Linked DNA regions of Homo sapiens: all the other regions are linked to region 1. The links come from fine-mapping of genetic effects on gene expression. A gene starts in region 1. Each other region holds a variant in brackets. All regions are shown on one strand. Distances are from middle to middle.

The links. PIP is the estimated chance that this variant, and not a neighbour inherited with it, causes the effect.
Region 2: its variant is fine-mapped to the expression of NEDD9 in whole blood (INTERVAL, PIP above 0.99).
Region 3: its variant is fine-mapped to the expression of NEDD9 in whole blood (TOPMed, PIP above 0.99).
Region 4: its variant is fine-mapped to the expression of NEDD9 in whole blood (TOPMed, PIP 0.98).

The regions. Positions count from the first base shown.
Region 1 is chr6:11,230,583-11,235,582 of GRCh38, reverse strand. It overlaps NEDD9 (neural precursor cell expressed, developmentally down-regulated 9), which reads left to right and starts at 2,915. Exons shown (of 7, transcript NM_006403.4): 1 at 2,915-3,079. The coding sequence starts at 3,068. LOC124901256 (a long non-coding RNA gene) reads left to right here and starts at 4,873. Exons shown (of 2, transcript XR_007059449.1): 1 at 4,873-5,000. RefSeq lists silencers at 2,828-2,877, 3,358-3,407.
Region 2 is chr6:11,168,963-11,174,162 of GRCh38, reverse strand. No RefSeq gene overlaps it. Among named protein-coding and RNA genes, the nearest start is that of ERVFRD-1, 60 kb to the right of the region's middle. RefSeq lists an enhancer at 1,313-1,607. The variant G/A (reference allele first, on the strand shown) is at 2,904.
Region 3 is chr6:11,347,431-11,352,630 of GRCh38, reverse strand. It overlaps a transcript of NEDD9 not described here. Among named protein-coding and RNA genes, the nearest start is that of NEDD9, 120 kb to the right of the region's middle. The variant C/G (reference allele first, on the strand shown) is at 2,119.
Region 4 is chr6:11,204,223-11,209,422 of GRCh38, reverse strand. All of the region lies in intron 2 of NEDD9 (neural precursor cell expressed, developmentally down-regulated 9), which reads left to right. Among named protein-coding and RNA genes, the nearest start is that of NEDD9, 26 kb to the left of the region's middle. The variant G/A (reference allele first, on the strand shown) is at 1,969.

The DNA.
Region 1 (5,000 bases):
AGCAATTTTCCCTGCTTAATTTTTCTTCATAGCATTTATCACTGCAAATCATATTATACATTCATTTAATTATTTTCCTCAACTCTCACTAGACTGTAAGCTCCATGAAGATGGGAACTTTGTCTGGGCTACTGCTGTATCCTCCCCTCCTAGAAAGGTACCTGGCACATGCTAGGTGCTCTAGTGATAACAGTTCAGTGAGAAAGCTGCCTTATGAAAGAATGGCACACAGAGAAGGGGTTCCTCCAACTTCTTCTGAATGCCTACCACACTTATCAACAGTAGTCTAATATTAATACTAGTTATAATTAATACAATAATTAAATAATAATCTATAGAATATAGCAATAATGTCATAAAATATTAACAAAATATCATAAATCTGATATTAATTAAAATAATAACTAATAACAACAGTAATAAGAACAAGCAACCATTTAAGGTCTTACAATGTAACAAGTACTATTAAATTCTATCCACATTATCTTATTTAATCCTCATTATGAGGCTAGCAGGTATTATTATTTTCTCTATTTCATACTGAAGGACATCAAAATTAAGAAGTTCAACTGGCCAGGCACAGTGGCCCACGCCTGTAATCCCAGCACTTTGGGAGACTGAAGCAGGTAGATCACCTGAGGTCAGGAGTTCGAGACCAGCCTGGCCAATCTGGTGAAACCCCGTCTCTACTAAAAATACAAAAAATTAGCCAGGTATGGTGGCAGACACATGTAATCCCAGCTACTCGGGAGGCTGAGGGAATTGCTTGAACCAGAGATGCGGGGATTGCAGTGAGCCGATATTGCACCACTGCACTCCAGCCTGGGCAACAAGAATGAAACTTTGTCTCAAAAAAAAAAAAAAAAAAAATTAAAAATGTTTTGAGGTTCCAGCACAGGTTTACCTGATTCCAACACCCTTGTGCTTTCCTTTAGGCAGCTAACTATATACTGACCCAAGCCTTCTTGAAATGAACTTCGGGTAGATTACATGTGTCTTACTTACCTTACAGGACAGAAACAGGAAAGCAGGAGGGCCACTAGCTAGAGAATGAAATTACAAAAAAACCCCAGCACAAACTTTAGGAAACTGTTTGAAAACATTAAAATAGGATGGGACAGCACTCACTTACTCAATGATATTCATCAAACAAAACAGAAAAAGGATTCAGCTTGACCACTTAGGAAGCCAAAGGAATGTTATCTAGATCTCTTGGAGGCCGCAAGACTCATCTTACAGATGGGAAGGGCTTTGAATCATTGTCCTCCTTTATCCAGGTAGACACCAAAAACAATTTCCTGCAAACTAACGACTCTCCGGTCAGTCTGCAGGATTCTTAAGGAGATCGTTACAATGCAATATGCTGCGTGCTTAATTTGTGTTCAGAAAGGCCTTGCACAATCACTCAGGCTTATTTTTGCTCTAAGGACAAATGAGGAGAAGCAAGGCCTAATACAGGCTGGAACAGGTATGTCAACCTCATTAGGATGGCCTGGGGGGTCATGTCCCTGGAATCAGTGCCACACTGAACTGCAAACTAACCTGCCAACCCTGTATCTGGAAACCACTTTTGTAGGACAGCTGTTCTCTCATTCCTTTTGCTTAGATCATAAAAGTAGAGTTTTCATCCATTGGGAATTTGTGTGTTAGACGCGAAGGGAATCAGATTCTGATCCAACTTGGTCAGGAAAAAAAAAAATAAGGGCTGATTTTTCCATCCAAGTCATGTAGTCTGGTTGGAGTGCATCCCACTCAGGGACAGCTATTGTCTGGATTCACCGAGTCTCAGTCTTGCCCGGGAAAAAGGAATTTTTCGCCTCACTGCTCTGTCCGTGAGAAGAGTTGCAGAAGGTGACCATTTCTGTTTTCTGGGTGATTCTCTTTCTCTATAGAAATCCTAAAATGGAACCTTTATAGAAATTATGTTCTGTGCTTCGCTGGAGAGAGACTGGTCTTTTTAACCAGGCTCATCAAACAGTGGGCATTTTCGTTCTCCTGGATAATAAGTGTTGGTGGGTTAATGGGTCATCCTCAGGACAGAGGTCAGAAGGAAAAACACTGCAGTGTTCAAAGCTGGAGCTAGAAATGCCAGCCGTCAAAGAACACAGAACTCAGTGGACGGTGATGATGTATAGGGCGTGCACTGGCCAACCCCATCCGAGAGGTCACATCTAACCTTTATCCTCAGCAAAGCCACTGAAGGTCGCTCAATATGTGTGACCCGCAACTCTGAGGCCCTGGTGAGAAGCTGTCCAGGAAAACGCTGGTGCGTGTGCTAGAGGGTTCCTTTTCACTAAGGGAGAATTGTCTTCCAGCTCCTTGCAGACTGACATCGCAAAGTACTTTGAACGTTGAAAAGAACAAAAAAAGCAAACAGTCACACACACACAAAAAGTAGGCGGGAGGAGGGGGAAAGAAAAAGGGACAGAGAGAGAGAGAGGTATCAGCAGGGGTGGTTAGTAAAAAGGGGCCCGGAGACAGAAAACCTTTTGTTCCCGGAGTTCGTTTCATGTAGAGATTGTGAGGTGAATGGCTTTGAAACGAAATGGGTTTATGAAGGAGTTGCTAGGTCACAGGAAGCGCGACTGTCAGACTGCTTTTGTGAATTCAGTTTCTTTAAAATTTGGGTTAATCTTAAAAAGAATGTATCTCCTTTTCCTGTTCTTTCTCTTTCTGTCTTCTTTTTTGGCGGGGGCGGGAGGACAGAGTAAGGTTCAGGACGGTTCCCCACTTTCTGTTTTATTTTCCACCGTCTGATAAAGCAAAAAGAAGCGATCACATTACAAGTTCTTTGTCAGTTTTTCAGAATTAGGGGTGGGCAGGGCCTGAGCATTACCTTGTCCCACTAGCCAATGGCGGGGCGGCATGCAAATGAGGTCCGCGATCAGCCTGCCTCAGTCACAACAGTGAGCTCAGAGACTTGAGGGAGGCGCTGCGACTGACAAGCGGCTCTGCCCGGGACCTTCTCGCTTTCATCTAGCGCTGCACTCAATGGAGGGGCGGGCACCGCAGTGCTTAATGCTGTCTTAACTAGTGTAGGAAAACGGCTCAACCCACCGCTGCCGAAATGAAGTATAAGGTAAGAGAGTGCCTTTTACAGGTTACCTTGCAAGCTGAAAGCTGTGCCTGCGGGTGTGTGCTTGTGTATGCGTGTTCCTTACTGTCAGTCCCTTGTGTGTCCCGGAGAGTTCTAAGATGAGTCTCGGTCACTGAGGTTGACATGCAAGCAGACAAGCAAGCAGAGACCCGGTCTTTGAGACCCACTCCAGGGGTTCACAGTACACCCGAGTCCATCTGCTCTGAAAGTTGCCGGGGAAATACCTCGGTGAGAAGTTAAGACTTGGAGCCGCTTCACAGCAGCCACTGGAGATCAGAGGGTGTCTGACTTGAATCGCGGCAGGCATTGGCTCAAGTCTCCTTGGCTTCCCCAGGCCTGGCTTCCACTGCCCTGGGGAACTGTAATGAGAGGAATGAGGACTGCATAGTCTGTCTCAGACTGGCTCTTAGTGCAAAGTTTTCCAGACTTTGCTTTAATCGTTTGGTCTCGGAAGGAGTATGCCATATGCACTTTTGGTGGGAGAAATTAAAAGCCCAGATTACACAGCTGAGGATGGAAAATTTTGACATCCTTATGTTATATTGGATGTAGGAATAAATAAGTATGAGCCATTTCTTGAAAACATTTTTATTGGAGTTTGAATGGGGTGAGAGTGCGAAGGCTCAGGCTGGCTCATTGTGCCTGAAAGCTTACAGAGTGTCATAGTCATAGTACTTCAGCAGCATTATTTTCCAATGCATTTTACACCATTGTTTGTGGATTTTTCTTGCCAAAAGGATTTTTGACTTGCTCCGTATATTCCCCCCTCCCCTTTTTCTTTTAAGTCACTCCCATCTAAGGAGGCAAGCAGCTTCCAGGGGACACAAAGAAAGCAGACTGCAATGAATTGGACATGAATTTTTCTTGAATGATGAATAGACATGAGTGCTAGTGCTACTATTTTATTTTATGCTATTTTAAACAAAAGTGTTATTATTAAGATGGATTTGGGCAAGGGTGCTAGGCTTGTGGATTGACAATTTATATTAACTGTACACTAGCTGGAAGCTACTTCGCTTTTTTTCTAAATTTTTCTGGTCCATCCTTTTTTGATGTAAGGTTGTAAATACTTGGTCTAACTGATAGCCACTGACTAGCCTCAGTAATAAAGCTTTTGTTCAAAAACTATGAATCTTATTCAAAAGCTTTAAGTCTAAATGTCAAAAGTCTTTATAGTAATGCCTACGTTACCACTGTCTGAAGACACAGGTATCAGCTATTTCTGTTTCATCAGCTTTCTATTATCTTCATCAGTAGGGAAGATCAGAGGAAAGGGTCATCCTGAAGACTATTAATATTTGACTTTAGGATGCAACCAGAAACAAATCCCTCTACTTGGCAGGAAAGTTATCTTCCTTAAAGTGGCTCACCCCATATTTCCTTATTTAGAACAATGATAGGACCAGATATTACTCAGCCTGGAGTGACTTTTTTGCTCCTCCTTTCCCTGTTGTTGAATAAGAACTGGCTTGCAGAAAAAAGAGAAAGTATGTTCATATGTCTATTATTGGAAAGTATAAATGGCTGAAATTAACATTGAGTGCTATAATCTAGAAAGTGACGAAAGCGACAAAGTCTCAAGTCACTTTTATTCAATGATCTCATCGTGGTTAGCTTTACTCTTTATGGAAAGAAAATCTAAAGGCAACTGATAAAGTGACTGACAGCGTAAACTGCGATTGGCATTCATGGAGAAACCTGCTTCTCCACTGGGCCTTACTGGTGTTGAACACCTTGCCAAATGATGTAAATACATGATTTTTATTACCTTGTAGGCACCTTCACCAGCAAAAAAGCTAACTTCTCCGACCGAACACATGACTTATGCCCTATGATGACTATTAAATCAACCAATAGCTGAAGAAATCCACTTTCCTTTTTTATAAAGTTTTCTTTCTCTCTA
Region 2 (5,200 bases), 62 kb after region 1:
CAGGAGTTCAAGACCAGCCTGGCTAACATAGTGAAATCTGTCTCTACTAAAAATACAAAAATTAGCCAGGCATGGTGGCGGGAGCTTGTAGTCCCAGCTACTCAGGAGGCTGAGGCAGGAGGATCGCTTGAACCTGGGAGACGAAGGTTGCAGTGAGCCAAGATCGCACCACTGCACTCCAGCCTGGGCAACAGAGTGAGACTCAGAAAAAAAAAAAAAAAAAAAAAGAACGAACGAACGAAGGAAAGAAGAAAAGAAAGAAAAAAAGAGAGAAAGAAAAGAAAGAAAGAAAGAAAGAAAAAGGAAAAGAAAGAAGGAAGGAAAGAAACAAAGAAAGAAAGAAAAGGTTTTAATGAGTAGAGGCCAGCCTGCAGGGGGAGAAACCTCTACAAGGGCAACTGAAAAGCTTCAGCACACTGACTGACCTTCATCTCAGACTCAACTATTACCAATCTCTAAAGCAAATTCCTCTGCAGCCTGGGAGGGGGCATTGAGGGGCAGGAACCACCACCATACCTCACAGCATGATTTAAGTCATCTCCCAACAACTATAATTAAGAAAACTGAGTTAACAAAAAGGGCACCTTACTTTGTCTCCTAACTGTCAATTTTCCAGAGAGACAAGAGTCAGCAGGGAATGATGTTAAATGAAAACATACCCCTAATTTTCTCTGGCCTGCCTGGCAGTCAGGAGACCACCAGACACCAGACATTGTCTATCCCCCACACAGCCCCTCACCCAGTCATCATCCAAGCGCAGTTTATGAGCCTTCTTTATGACCCAGGCAGCCTAACGGGTTTTTTTTTCAGAACCATCTGGGCCCTTTGTGACTTAAATTCCTATTAAAGAAGTTGAAGTCTCCAAGAACAATGGTTGTGAATGAGACATTTTAAACAGTGGTCAGAGAAGTAACTTATTTCAGCCTTGCCCAATGTTAAAATATCAAGACAAAGGGCTGGTGTGGGTGTATTTTTAGAATGATGTAAAGATGTAAATGGACAACTTAGTGAAGGCTGTCCTTGCCCTTGGGCAATTATTTCTACCTCTCTGTCTAGACATCCAGTCTACACTGGAAAGGACCTACGATTTGACAAAAGAAGGTTTTGGATAAATAATGGGTCCCCCAATCCTGTTTGCAAAAGAAAAATCAACAAGCAAGAAAACAAAAGATCTGCAAAGAGCACTGAGAAGGGGACATGTAGGGACCTGTATGCAGAGGAGAGCGCTCTAGAGAAAAGTTACTAGGTCCTCTGCCCCTTGCAAAGGGGAGTGAACTTGTGGGTGTTTACACGTACCAGGTGGCTTCCCGTTGAAAGGGGGCCCCCAGAAATCCTTTAGAGCGCTGACAGTGCAAATAGCTAGCACCTATTCAGCTCAGGCAACAAGGTCTTTGGGCACCACCTAGGATGTTTTGAAGCCCCTCACGCAGCGACCAGCATTTTGCAGATCTAAGGCTGTGTTCGCCTCGCACGGCGCCCCCTTGTGGTCTGATGGGAAATGAAAGGTGGAGGACAATTGGTTTTTACAACCGATTTCATCTCTAACGTGCCTGGGAAATAGGAATGCTAGTGCAGACCTGATTCGCTGTTGTGAAAATAAGCATTCAAAATAATTCTTAAGCGCTCCACAACCACGTAGCAGTACGATTACTTCCTTGCTGCACATCTCCCTAGCCTCTTGTATATTTCAGACACAGGGCATCTTGGACCATGAGTTCATCTTTCCCATCTCACTACCTAACTAACACAAAGAGTTCAATTCATGTTTGTTGACTGGCTAACTGAACCCAAAGGAATGAATCCACCTCCAAGCTCCTCCACCCCCATCCCACATTGGAGGATCCTTTTTTTTTTTTTTTAAACGGAGTCTGCCTCAGACACTCAAGACTGGACTGCAGTGGAGCTGTGTCCGGAATTGGTGGGTTCTTGGTCTCACTGACTTCAAAAATGAAGCCGCGGATCCTCGCGGTGAGTGTTACAGTTCTTAAAGGCAGCGTGTCTGGAATTTGTTCCTTCTGATGTTCGGATGTGTTCAGAGCTTCTTCCCTCTGGTGGGGTTTGTGGTCTCACTGGCGCATGAGTGAAGCTGTGGACCTTCGCAGTGAGTGTTACAGCTCTTAAGGCTGCCCGTCTGGAGTTGCTCGTTCCTCCCAGTAGGTTCGTGGTCTTGCTGGTTTCAGGAGTGAAGCTGCAGACCTTCACAGTGAGTGTTATAGCTCATAAAGGCAGTGTGGACCCAAAGACTGAGCAGTAGCAAACTTCACTGCAAAAAGCAAAAGAACAAAGCTTCCACAGCGTGGAAAGACACCCGTACAGAAAAGTACCCGAGCGGGTTACCACTGCTGGTGCAGGCAGCCTGCTTTTATTCTCTTATCTGGCCACACCCACATCCTGCTGATTGGTCCATTTTACAGAGAGCCGAGTGGTCTGTTTTGACAGGGCGCTGATTGGTGCGTTTACAATCCCTGAGCTAGACACAAAGGTTCTCCACCTCCCCACTAGATTAGCTAGATACAGAGTGTGGACACAAAGGTTCTCCAAGTCCCCACAAGAGTAGCTAGATACAGAGTGCCGATTGGTGTATTTACAATCCCTTAGCTAGACATAAAGGTTCTCCAAGTCCCGCCCAGACTCAGGAGCCCAGCTGGCGTCACCCAGTGGATCCCGCACGGGGCCGCAGGTGGAGCTACCTGCCAGTCCCGTGCGGTGTGCGCGCACTCCTCAGCCCTTGGGTGGTCGATGGGACTGGGCGCCGTGGAGCAGGGGCGCCGCTCGTCGGGGAGGCTCGGCCGCACAGGAGCTCACGGGCGTGGGGGAGAGGCTCAGGCATGGCAGGCTGCAGGTCCCGAGCCCTGCCCCGCAGGGAGGCAGCTAAGGCCCGGCGAGAAATCGAGAACAGCGCC[G/A]GTGGGCCAGCACTGCTGGGGGACCCAGCACACCCTCCGCAGCCGCTGGCCCGGGTGCTGAGCCCCTCATTGCCCGGGGCTGGCAGGCCGCTCCGAGTGCGGGGCCCACCGAGCCCACACCCACCCGGAACTCACGCTGGCCCGCAAGCACCGCGCGCAGCCCCGGTTCCCGCCCGCCCCTCTCCCTCCACACCTCCCTGCAAGCTAAGGGAGCCGGCTCCCGCCTCGGCTAGCCCAGGAAGGGGCTCCCACAGTGCAGCGGTGGGCTGAAGGGCTCCTCGAGTGCCGCCGAAGTGGGCGCCAAGGCCGAGGAGGTGCTGAGAGTGAGCGAGGGCTGTGAGGGCTGCCAGCAGGCTGTCACCTCTCAGCGCCATCTCGGCTCACCGCAACTTGTGCCTCCTCACTGCTTTAGCCTCCCGAGTAGCTTGGATTACAGGCTCCTGCCACCACGTCCCCCTGATTTTTGTATTTTTAGTAGAGACGGGGTTTCACCATGTTGGCCAGGCTGGTCTTGAACTCCTGACCTCAAGTGATCCGCCTGCCTCGGCCTCCCAAAGTGCTGGCATTACAGGCGTGAGCCACCACGCCTGGCTTGGAGGAGCCCTTTAAAGGAAAAAGAACATTGCAGGATCCTTAACAATAACTAAAAATAAAATTCCTTCAAAAGGCAGGATGTAGTGCCCATGAGTTACTGTTGTATTGTTTCCCCTTTATATAACCTTTTTCCACAATTACTTTAGTAACTTTGGTTGTTCTCGTTGAATGTCTATGTGATTTCTCTGCTGTAAGCTCCTGAGGTTGGATTTGCGCTGCACAGCAGATCCCTACAAGTCCCCTTCTCAGTGTTCCTTGAAGATCTTTTGTTTTATTGCTTGTTTCATAGTTCCCCGGGTGATCTCAGCTGCAATATACTCCTTTGCAAAGTTGCTGTAACCAGGCCAAAACCTGTCCCTAGATTTAGAATCCATGGTTTGGGATGACTGTGACGTTAATCACCCCATGCTCTCTGTCAACATGACCCAACACTTTCAGTACATCCCATCCTCATCCTCAGATCCTCATCCTCAGATCTTCAGCACTTACAGCATCTATAGGCCTTTCAACCATTGCACCAGCAAGCAAAACAACAATTATAGAGAAAATGGACAGAAGGCGAAACAAAAGAAAAGTTTTATGATCAATGAGCAAATTATAGGCAAACGTATTCATATTTAAGCATCAGGGGATATTTCATTTGTCCTGAGTAATTGATATGCTTTTTCTCATGGAAACAAGATTTTTGCAATTAACTGATCATGTTTTCCTTTACTGTAAAGGTCAGAGACAAATTTGATGCCCAATATCAGTAACTAGTAACTTATGGGTCCATCTGGGTTTTACATTTTCTCTCCATACCATCTTTTCTACCTAAATTATTCCTCAAAATTATTCCTCATCCTCTCTTTTTTAGCTACTATCTTTTTTTTTTTTTTTTTTCCTGAGATGGAGTCTCACTCTGTCGCCCAGACTGGAGTACAGTGGCACGATCTTGGCTCACTGCAACCTCTGCCTCCAGGGTTCAAGCGATTCTCTTGCCTCAGCTTCCCAAGTAGCTGGGACTACAGGTGCACACCACCACACCCAGCTAATTTTTAAAAAAATATTTTTGGTAGAGACAGGGTTTCACTATGTTGGCCAGGCTGGTCTCAAACTTCTGACCTCAAGTGATCCGCCCACCTCAGCCTCCCAAAGTGCTGGGATTACAGGCATGAGTCACTGCGCCCAGCCTTTAGCTACTATCTTTGATTACATGTGATTAGCCACATGTGAGAGCTCTGATGCTCTCTGAATGTATAAAGAAGCATGGGCTCTGCTCCTCCGTGTGCTGAGCCAATATGTTCCACAGTAGAAAGGGAGGGGCTCCAGAACTGCGGCTCATAGCAAGTTTTCTTCCATATACATCCACCACCAGGGTGCCAGGTGGAACAACTTCATCTGTTGGCAATTTCACACCCTAAATCAATCTTTCCTTGCAACTTCCCCCTGCCTCTGGTGTGAAACTGGCCCAGACTTCCATCTCTGCCATTATCAATCTCCCCTCCAGAAACCAATGCCCTTCCCAGAAATCCGGCATCAGACATGTTTTTATATGTTTGACCCTCAAAGACAGAAGTCAGGGTTAGGATTCCATTTCTTTTTCATTCAGGAGGCACCTCTGCCACTTTGTAATATCATCAATGCAAGCTTGACTTATTGGTGCCTGAAAACATCCAAGCCCGAAATACTCTACCTGGAGCCTGGTCCAGGCCCTACCCAAA
Region 3 (5,200 bases), 120 kb before region 1:
TATTACATAATTCAGCCAAAATTTAAACTCTGGTCTTTCTGACTGGCAGGACCATTCCTTACCATGATGCCATGTTGCTGGTGGACATTAGGGTATCTAAACTAGGGTAGTCCTAGCTTCAGAGAAAGAAGCTGTATAAAGAAACCAAATGATTATGCTTGAGGCTTAACCAAAGCAATATAAAAAGTGTATGTTCTCAGGGGAATGGGCAAAACAGAAGAGAAAAAGGCCGGCCACCGAGCGGCTGTGGGTGAATGAGTTAACCAAAGAGCAAATGTCTGAGTTGGATCATGAAACAGCAGATCAAGTGGGCTCAGTGTCTGTAAACATCTACACTGCCCATGAGGACAAGATCTGTATGCTCCATCTACACCCAGAGGCTGAAGGAATGCCTGTGGTGTAGACAACTCACTTTTCTAGAGAAATGGAGAAGGGATTAGACATGTTAACCCTGAAGAAAAGGAAACTTGGGGTAGGGTAGGCTCAGAAAGTCTTCAGAGGTTGGGAACGTGGCCCATGAAAGAGCAGGGAGACTGGAAAGGGACCCTGCCTGTGGAGGCAGCTCTGGGCCCCACTTGAACACACACGGGTGAACCACTTGACCCACCTTACAGTGAAAGAAGCTGGCACCTGTGGACCACTGGAGAAACCTCAGTAGCCATCTGGTGTTCCCCAATGACTGTGTTGCTCACAACCCTCAAGAGTCCTTTGTTGCTTTTGGAATTGTAGGGCTGGCAAGATGTCTTCACCCACTGCTAGATTCATGGCTGAGGCCCCTATAATGAAGGACAGATGAACAAGAGAAGAACATACAAACGCATAGAATATAAGTTTTACATGACACAGAAGCCTTTGAGGGGAAATGAAGAACCAGAGAAACAGGGAAACCTGTGTATTTGCTATGCTCGATTGGATGAAGAGTGGACAGTCATGGAGAGGCATGACCGAGCAAAGCGGGTGATAACCTGGAGGGAATGTCACCACATCTGTTGGCTCAGATTCTCCTCTGTGTCCTTGTGTCTTCAGAAAAAGGATGTTCCTTTCCTCTGAGTATGCGGGCATCACTCACACCAGGGTCCAATGTCCTACTTCAGGGGAAAGTCAGGAAATCCTTCCTGGGACTGATGACCGGCCTCAGAGAGAAGGGTAGAACAAGGGAAGGTGAGAGTGGCCTTTCTGCTTTTGCTGTTTTCTCAAATGCCAATTTTCTATTTTCAGGGGCAATATGTCCTGAACCCCATCAGGATGAAGCCCCAGCTCCATGAAGCCCCTCTTGAACTGGTCCATCCTACTGTTCCAGTCTCAGCTCCCTCTGCTCCAGGCCTTGAACTTCACATTCCAGCCTGGGGACTCCTGGCAGTTCCCTAAATATGCAAAGAGCTCAGCTTTCTTTCCTGGTCCTGGTCCTGGTCACTTGGCCCTCTCTGTCTCTCCCTTCCTTCTTCCCATCTCTCTTCCTTTCTGGCTCATGTCCCTCGCACATGCTGTAAACTCTTCCTGGAACATCTCCCTTCCACCTGTGAATCTCTTGCCAGCTCACTTCTTTTCTCCCTTTAAGAATCCACTTCTCAAAAGAAAATGGCAACTCTGTGAGGTGATAGAAATGCTGATTCGCTTGATCATTGTGGCGTCCACAATGTATATATAAAACAAGTTGTACACATTACCATGTATAAATTTGTGTTTGTCGATTATATGTCAAGAAAGACAAGGAGGTGTGGAAAGACTGCACCTCTGTCAAGACGCCTTTCTGACCACCCCCCGACCCTGGTTGACACTCCCTGACATGAGCCCCCGAGTGTTTACCTACGCTATGTGTATCAGGGCATCCCGACCACTTGCTCACTCACCTGTCTCCCCACTGTGAGGTCAGCGGCAGGGCCTTGTTCAGTGTCTTAGTCATATCCCCTCCAGCACCCACCATGACCTCTGGCACTAAGTAGGGGCTCAATAAGCCAATCATTGTGTTGATGTACCAGTGACATTGAGGGAAGACCAAGCTCGCCGACCTCTAAGATCCTGTCCACTCTGAGAGTCTGTGAGTCTGTATTTCTGCTCCCACAGTTAGTCACGGAGGAAGTTGCCAAAGCAGATGATGAGACTTCTGTTTGGGGTTGC[C/G]CAGGTCTGCCTGGCCTTTGCAATTTGTAATCAGGTCCTTTGAAAGAGAAACTGAACTGAGAGAAAAACACAGTTTGGATGAGGCAAGAGTTGCAAAATAATGAGTTATGTAATGGTGATGGTGGCCTGTGGTAGCATCTTTGGCCCTGCCCAGATGATACAAGACTTTGTATGTATACCCTTGAGCATGGCCAAAAGGACAATTGTCAAAACCACGGCTTAAGTGTTCAAAAGCCTCTTTTCCCATAAGATGTTGCCTCTTGAGGTCAGACTGAAATCCTGTACCTGTAATAATTTCCTCCTTAGGACTGGATGTACATGAAAAGATTGGAGATATATATGTACCTTTTTTATATGCCATGTAAATGGTATAACCCTTGCACTCTTTGGCCATTAACAGCCAATTGTCAATTAGTTTATTGTGTATTAGATCAAACTGTATTGCCCAGGCCAGCTCCTGAAGAACTGTGAACTATGAACATCTCAGCCTAGAAGGATAATGTGACCTTCAATTTGCACACCATCCATTGTCTCTTTCAAACTAAGAGCCTCTCTAAGCTAGATAGGCCAAGGATTATTTTTTTAACTTTTATTTTAGGTTCAGGGGTACATATACAGGTTTGTTACATAGGTAACCTCATGTCATGAGGGATTTTGTATAGATTATTTGGTGACCCAGGTACTAAACCTAGTACCCATTAGTTGTTTTTTCTGCTCCTCTCCCTCCTCTCACCCTCCACCCTCAGTTAGTTCCCAGTGTGTGTTGTTTCCCCACATCTATCCATGTGTTCTTATTATTTAGCTCCCACTTATAAGTAAGAACATGCAGTGTTTGGTTTTCTGTTCCCGATTAGTATGCTGAGGATAATGGCTTCCAATTCCATCCATGTTTCTGCAAAGAACATGCTCTCATTCTTTAATATGGCTGCATAGCGTTCCATGGTGTGTATGTACCACATTTTCTTTATCCAGTCTATCATTGATGGCCATTGTGGTTGATTCCATGTCTTGGCTATTGTGAATAGTGCTACAATAAACATAACATGTGCATGTGTCTTTATGATGGAATGATTTCTATTTCTTTGGGTATATACCCAGTAATGGAATTGCTGGGTCAAAGGGTATGTCTGTCTTTAGGCCTTTGAGAAATCACCACGCTGCTTTCCACAATGGTTGAACTAATTTACACTCCCACCAATGGTATATAAGCATTCCCTTTTCTCCACAATCTTGCAAGCATCTGTTATTTTTTTATTTTTTGTTAATAGCCATTCTGACTGGTGTGAGATAGTATCTCATTGTAGTTTTGATGTGCCTTTCTCTAATGATTAGTGGCATTAAGCTTTTTTCATATGCTTGTTGGTCACATGTATGTCTTCTTTTGAAAAGTGTCTTTTTATGTCCTTTGCCAAATTTTTAATGGCGTTGTTTTTTCTTGTAAATTTGTTAAAGTTTCTTATGGGTTCTGGATATTAGACAGATGTAAGATGCATAGTTTGCAAATATTTTCTCCCATTCTGTAGGTCGTCTGTTCCCTATGGTGATAGTTTCTTTTGCTGTGCAGAAGCTCATTAGTTTAATTAGATCCCATTTGTCAATTTTTGCTTTTGTTGAGATTGCTTTTGGCATCTTTGTCATGAAATCTTTGCCAGTTCCTAAGCCCAGAATGGTATTGCCTAGGTTGTCTTTCAGGGTTTTTATAGTTTTGGGTTTTACATTTAACTCTTCAGTCCATCTTGAGTTGATTTTTGTATATAGTATAAGGAAGGGATCCAGTTTCAATCTTCTGTAAATGCCTAGCCAGTTATTCCAGCACCATTATTGAACAGGACTCCTTTCCCTGTTGCTTGTTTTTGTCAACTTTATCAAAGATCAGATGATTGTAGGTGCACAGCTTTATTTCTGAGCTCTCTATTCTGTTCCATTGGCCTGCGTGTCTGTTTTTGTACCATGCTGTTTTGGTTACTGTAGCCCTGTAGTATAGTTTGAAGTTGGGTAGTGTGTTACCTCCCGCTTTGTTCTTTTAACTTAGGATTGCTTTGGCAATTCAGACTCTTTTTTTGGTTCCATACTAATTTTTAAATAGTTTTTTCTAATTCTGTGAAGAATGTCATTGGTAGTTTGATAGGAATAGCATTGAATCTGTAAATTGCTTTGGGCAGTATGTCCATTTTAATGATGTTGATTCTTTCTATCTATGAGTATGGAATATTTTTCTATTTGTTTGTGTCATCTCTGATTTCTTTGAGCAGTGTTTTGTAGTTCTCATTGCAGAGATCTTTCACCTCCGTGGTTAGCTGTTTCCTAGGTATTTTATTCTCTTTGTAGCAGTTGTTAATGGGATTGTGTTCTGCTCTCAGCTTGACTGTTGTTGGTGTATAGGAATGCTCGTAATTTTTGTACATCAATTTTGTATCCTGAAACTTTGATGAAGTTGCTTATCAGCTCAAGGAGTGTTTGGGCAGAGACTATGGGGTTTTCTAGCTATAGGATCATGTCATCTGCAAACAGAGATAGACTTCCTCTCTTCCTATTTGGATGCCCTTTATTTCTTCTCTTGCCTGATTGCCCTGGCCAGAGCTTCCAATACTATGTTGCATAGGAGTGGTGAGAGAGGGCATCCTTGTCTTGCTCCAGTTTTCAAGGGGAATGCTTCCAGCTTTTGCCCATTCAGTGATGTGCTGGCTGTGAGTTTGTCACAGATGGCTCTTATTATTTTGAGGTATGTTTCTTCAGTACCTAGTTTGTTGAGAGTTTTTAACATGAAGGGATGTTGAATTTTATTGAAAGCTTTTTCTTCATCTATTGAGATGATCACGTGGGTCTTGTCTTTAGTTCTATTTGACCCATCACATTTATTGATTTGCACATGTTGAACAAGCCTTGAGTCCCAGGGATAAAGCCTACTTGATTGTGGTTGATTAGCTTTTTGATGGCTGCTGGAAAGGTTTGCTAGTATTTTGCTGAGGGCTTATGCATCAATGTTCATCAAGGATATTGGCCTGAAGTGGTTATTTTTGTTTGTTTGTTTTGTTTTGTTTTTCTTGTTGTGTCTCTGCCAGGTTTTGGTATCAGGATGATG
Region 4 (5,200 bases), 26 kb after region 1:
TCTGCAAGAATTCTGCAAAGGGTGGAAAAAAACTCTCCAAGTTATCTGAAAACCATATACGCTGACACCTTTACTTAATTTCATTGGTCTTTTTCACTCTGTGTTTTGTGCACAGGGCCGTTTTATCCATTAGGCGTTGTAGGCAATATGCCCAGTGCCTATAAGAATGTTTGGGAGCTGAATAAAAGATCTTTTGACTCCAAAATATGAAACACAAAAACTGCAAAATAGAAATTAATAAACATTTAGGTCAATGTCTAGGAAACCATATCATGTCTGCCCCATTAATTGTTTTATTTAGGGCTTATAACTATTTCATCATATTAGAAAACAGTATGTAGGTTATATTTTTCTCACTTTGCAAAGATTTCTAAATATGCATCATGGTTGCCAAGAACCCACAGGCAATCCTAAATTAAATAAGTTACTCATAGTCGAATAATTTGAAAAACTGAATTATAAAGGAAGAAAAAAAGTTTTCAATTTTTAACAGCAAAAATTCTACTTAATATGGGATTATGGTTTGGGGTAAATGAAATCTACAAATGTTCAAAACCAAAAGCCTAAAAAGATCTAAAATAGTCTCATTTCTCTGCTTCAAAGATCAGTGAAATTGCTACCTGAGTTCATCCATTTCACAGTTGATCTGCATGGGAAATTATATGTGCTTCTCTGATTTTTCTTTGGATGTGTCGCTTTTATTCTAACTGCTGGAACTATTTGTTGTACCTCTTTCTGAAGATCAGTTTGGGGCTAAATTACAAGCTCCATCAGCACAGGGGCCATGGCTGCCTCCTGACTGCTGTAGGCTGAGCACTTGGTAGAGCATCAGCCCACAGATAGCAGCCCAGTGAACCAATGAACAGGTGGAAGCAAGAATCAAAGTGTTAAATGAGAGTTAACCTTTAATTAACTGAAAGGTGGTTCTGATCTTATCACACATCCACCCTCACACGCTGCTGCTCGAATCCCATGGTTCAGCTCATTACCATCTGGTATGAGAGGTGTCAGATTATATACAGTCATTTCCCTCGCTGAAGGACCTTCCAGAATGTCACTGCCTGTGTCCTGTAAGGGTAACTATTCATATACAATCAATGAGCACCTTGATGCAAAGCATGAGTGATGTAAAGAAGGGCTTATCTGAGAGTTTAACTTCTGTGCATTTTGCCCAATTTAGACAAGATTAGTTAACTCCTCTGTGGTCACCTAAGGAGGAAAACTAGGCTTTTTTTTTTTTTTTTTGAGTCAGGGTCTCGCTCTGTCACCCATGCTGAAGTGCGGTGGTGCCATCTCGGCTCACTGCAACTTCTGGCTCCTGGGTTCAAGCGATTCTCATTCCTCAGCCTGCCCAGTAGCTGGGACTATAGGCATGCGCTACCAAGCCTGGCTAATTTTTGTGCTTTTAGTAGAGACGGGGTTTTGCCATGTTGGCCAGGCTGGTCTTGAACTCCTGGCCTCAGGTGATATGCCCGCTTCAGGTTCCCAAAGTGCTGGGATAATAGGCATGAGCCACTGCGCCTGGCCTAACTTTTTCTACTGAGGGGCAGAACTTCCTTTGCATATGTTATGATTTACCTAGAATGCCTTTCCCTTCTATTTTCCCTGTGAACTCCTATCCATTCTTTAAAACCCACTCCAAGGTTCATCCCCCTCATGAAGCTTCCTCTCTGCAACCCAGCAGTTTCTCCCTTCCCTATGGTCCCAGAATGTGTTGTATATTCCATTGATCTCAAGGGCTTCTTAAAAATGGAATGGTCTGCCATTGCAATGTGTGTGATGGTCTGGACTGGGGTAAGTATTGCTTTGAGGTGGCACTTGGAAAACTGAAGTAATATTCAGATTTACCAAGATCCTATGACATCATCTTTAAGGACCATTTTCTACCTTCCAAAATGGGTCACGGCCAAATGTTGGCAGGAAATGATTCAAAGGTTTTAGCCAGGTCTTCCAGGCCCATTCCTGAAA[G/A]GTAATGTAAGAAACAGAAATAGATTAGCTACAATGTTTGTACCTTCCTAGACACTGAGTCATCACAAATTACACACATACACGTACATACACATACACATACACACACACAGACACCCATAAGCTGTTGGCTAAGGAACAAGGACTTCCCTTATTGGAATTTGAGGCATTGTGCAATCTGGTTGCCCAGAGCGACACTCAGATACTAGCCAACTAAGTGCTATATATTAGCAGCATGACTTGTCTAACAACAAGCAAAAAATAGGTTTAGAGGAAATGAAAGCTTCCAGAAAAGTTAAATTCTGACTTCACCTCACTTTCTCCTGTTCCTTGCCTATACACACACAAAATACGTACACACCCAAAAAATACTCCTAGGGCAGAGGGTACTTCGGTTTCCTCATTTATAAATCAATAAAGTACAACTATGTTCCAGAATTGTACATTTCTACATAAAGATAATCCTAATGTATATGAATTGTTTGCCTCGATACATGGGTTTTGGGGCTATGCAGAGAACTGTACTTGCCATCTAAAATGTCACCCCTGAAGTTTCAAGATACATTTTAATATTACACAAAACTGGAGGTCATTCAGCTCTTGAAGGGCAGGACTTTATGAGCTCACTTTGAAAATGAGAAGTTATCTTTTCTCAGACAAGTCACCCGAGCCAAAGCAATGAGCAAACTCTAACACCCCTCCTTAAAAATTAACAAAGGTCCTTTTTGTTTGGCCAGTGCCAAAGCCTTCAAACTCAGTTGCACTTCGTTCTAAATTTTATAGATAATGCATATTTCTAAGAGTGCATTAGTAACTTCTTATAAACCCACACCAAAGCAAACAGAGGTTAACCCTCCTTTTTCAATGATTTCATGCTAAATGACTGTGCTTATCAGAGTGAAGAGGTAAGAGACTGCTTTAATATGATGTCTGGCTAAGTAGGAGAACACTGTGAGAGAGAGAAAACAGAATAAATTTATTTATTTAATTTCATGATAAACAATATTCGTTGAACACATCTTTTTTTTTATTTTTGAGATGGAGTTTCACTCTTGTTGTCCAGGCTGGAATGCAATGGCGCAATCTTGGCTCACTGCAACCTCCGCCTCCCAGGTTCAAGCGATTCTCCTGTCTCCGCCTCCCAAGTAGCTGGGATTACAGGTGCCCACCACCTTGCCCGGCTAATTTTTGTATTTTTAGTAGAGACGGGGTTTCATCATATTGGTCAGGCTGGTCTCAAACTCCTGATCTCAGGTGATCTGCCCACCTCGGCCTCCCAAAGTGCTGGGATTACAGACATGAGCCATCACGCCCGGCCTGGTTGTACAAATCTTTAAAAAAAGACTTGCTTGACTACATTGTGCAAAATGCAGAACTAGAAACTGTCAGCAATCAAAAGCACTTCATTCTAACTAGCTGTGCCTTAAACGTTGTCAAGATAACTTCTAGAGAGATGTGCTGCTCCTGTTTAAAGTGTGTCAGTGCCACTCACATAGGACAATGTGTGTTCCTCAAAAGTCGGATGTAGGTCGGGCGCAGTGGCGCATGCCTGTAATTCCAGCACTTTGGAAGGCCGAAGTGGGTAGATCACCTGAGGTCAGGAGTTTGCAACCAGTCTGACTGATACCATGAAACCCCGTCTCCACTAAATACAAAAAAATTAGCCAGGCATGGTGGTGCATGCCTGTTAATCCGAGTTACTTCGGAGGCTGAGACAGGAGAATCGCTTGTACCTGGGAGGCAGAGGTTGCAGTGAGCTGAGATCACGCCATTGCACTCCAGCCTGGGCAACAAGAGCAAAACTCTGTCTCAAAAAAAAAAAAAAGTAGGATGTAACTCCAGTAACATTTGAAGAGTGCCAAGGAGTCCTCTCTTTAAAGGGATCCTACAGTATATCAGTTTTTTGAAGCAAAGAAGCCTTTAGCAATGCCACAATCGCCTCTGATTTATTTGATTAATTTTTGTAATACTTGGTTTTCTTAAAGCATGGCACACTTAAACCAGTTATTTATTGGAATAGTTTTTGTTTTCAAAGTCACTACCAATTGAATGTGCAGCCTTCACTGGTGTCATTACCCCATGCTTCCGTCTCATTTTGCAAGATAGTGTTAGAACTAAAGTGGGGGTGACCCCAAGGCGCCTTGAGCCTTGGCTCCATGTTAGGGATCCCATAGAGGTACTACCACCTGATCCTCTCCACAGCCTCGTGAGGTGCACCTCACAGCATTTGCTGTTCAGAGGAGGGAACTGAGGTCTGAGAAGGAAATTCACTTGCTGAAGTTAACTTGCTGCCTCCAGTGAGAGGCAGGATTGATATTTGAGCCCACGTCTGTCTGACTCCAATGCTAATGATTTTTACATCCCGGCTGAAGGATGATATTGCCAAGCCCTTAAAGAAGAAGGCATATTTGGACACCTCATTAGCAATTTGGGCGCTAAATCATACCCTGTTGGCCAGGAAGAATTAAAGTTGCTGCCCAGGGCTCCCACCTCAGGTCCAGGGAGTAGCCTCAATACTGAGGGAATCTGAATTAAGGAGCTTGGAAGTTCCCCCCACCTAGCTGTAGTGGGCAGTTTCAGAGTGGGCTGATCCAGGAGTCCTGACCAGGTCAGTAGGGTGATGTCTAGACTCCAGTACCACTGAGAATGTTGCTATGTTGGCTTTCTCTGCCACACAGAAAAGTCTTTTCTTTCCTTTTCTTTTCTTTCTTTCTTTCTTTTTTTTTTTTTTTTTTGAGACGGACCCTCCCTCTGTTGACCAGGCTGGAGTGCAGTGGCACAATCTCGGCTCACCACAACCTCCGCCTCCTGGGTTCAAGTGATTCTCCTGCCTTAGCCTCCCGAGTAGCTGGGACTATGGGTGCGCACTACCATGCCTGGCTAATTTTTGTATTTTTAGTAGAGACAAAGTTTCACTACGTTGGCAAGGCTGGTCTCAAACTCCTGACCTCGTGATCTGCCCACCTCGGCCTCCCAAAGTGCTGGGATTATAGGCGTGAGCCACCACGCCTGGCCTAAGACTGTCTTTCCAAATGACTTCAAATTCCTTCAAATGGGTAACTTCATTTAACCAGGTGGGGGCACCTCCCAAAACACAAGTTACCCAGCTTTCAAGTTGTGGCTCTCATATAAGGAAGTAACTTTCTTTGAGAGTATTTACTTGTGAAATTATAAAAGTAGTAAATTTCTGGAAAATGTCTAACATGTATTGCTAGCGTAGGCCGCAGGGCAT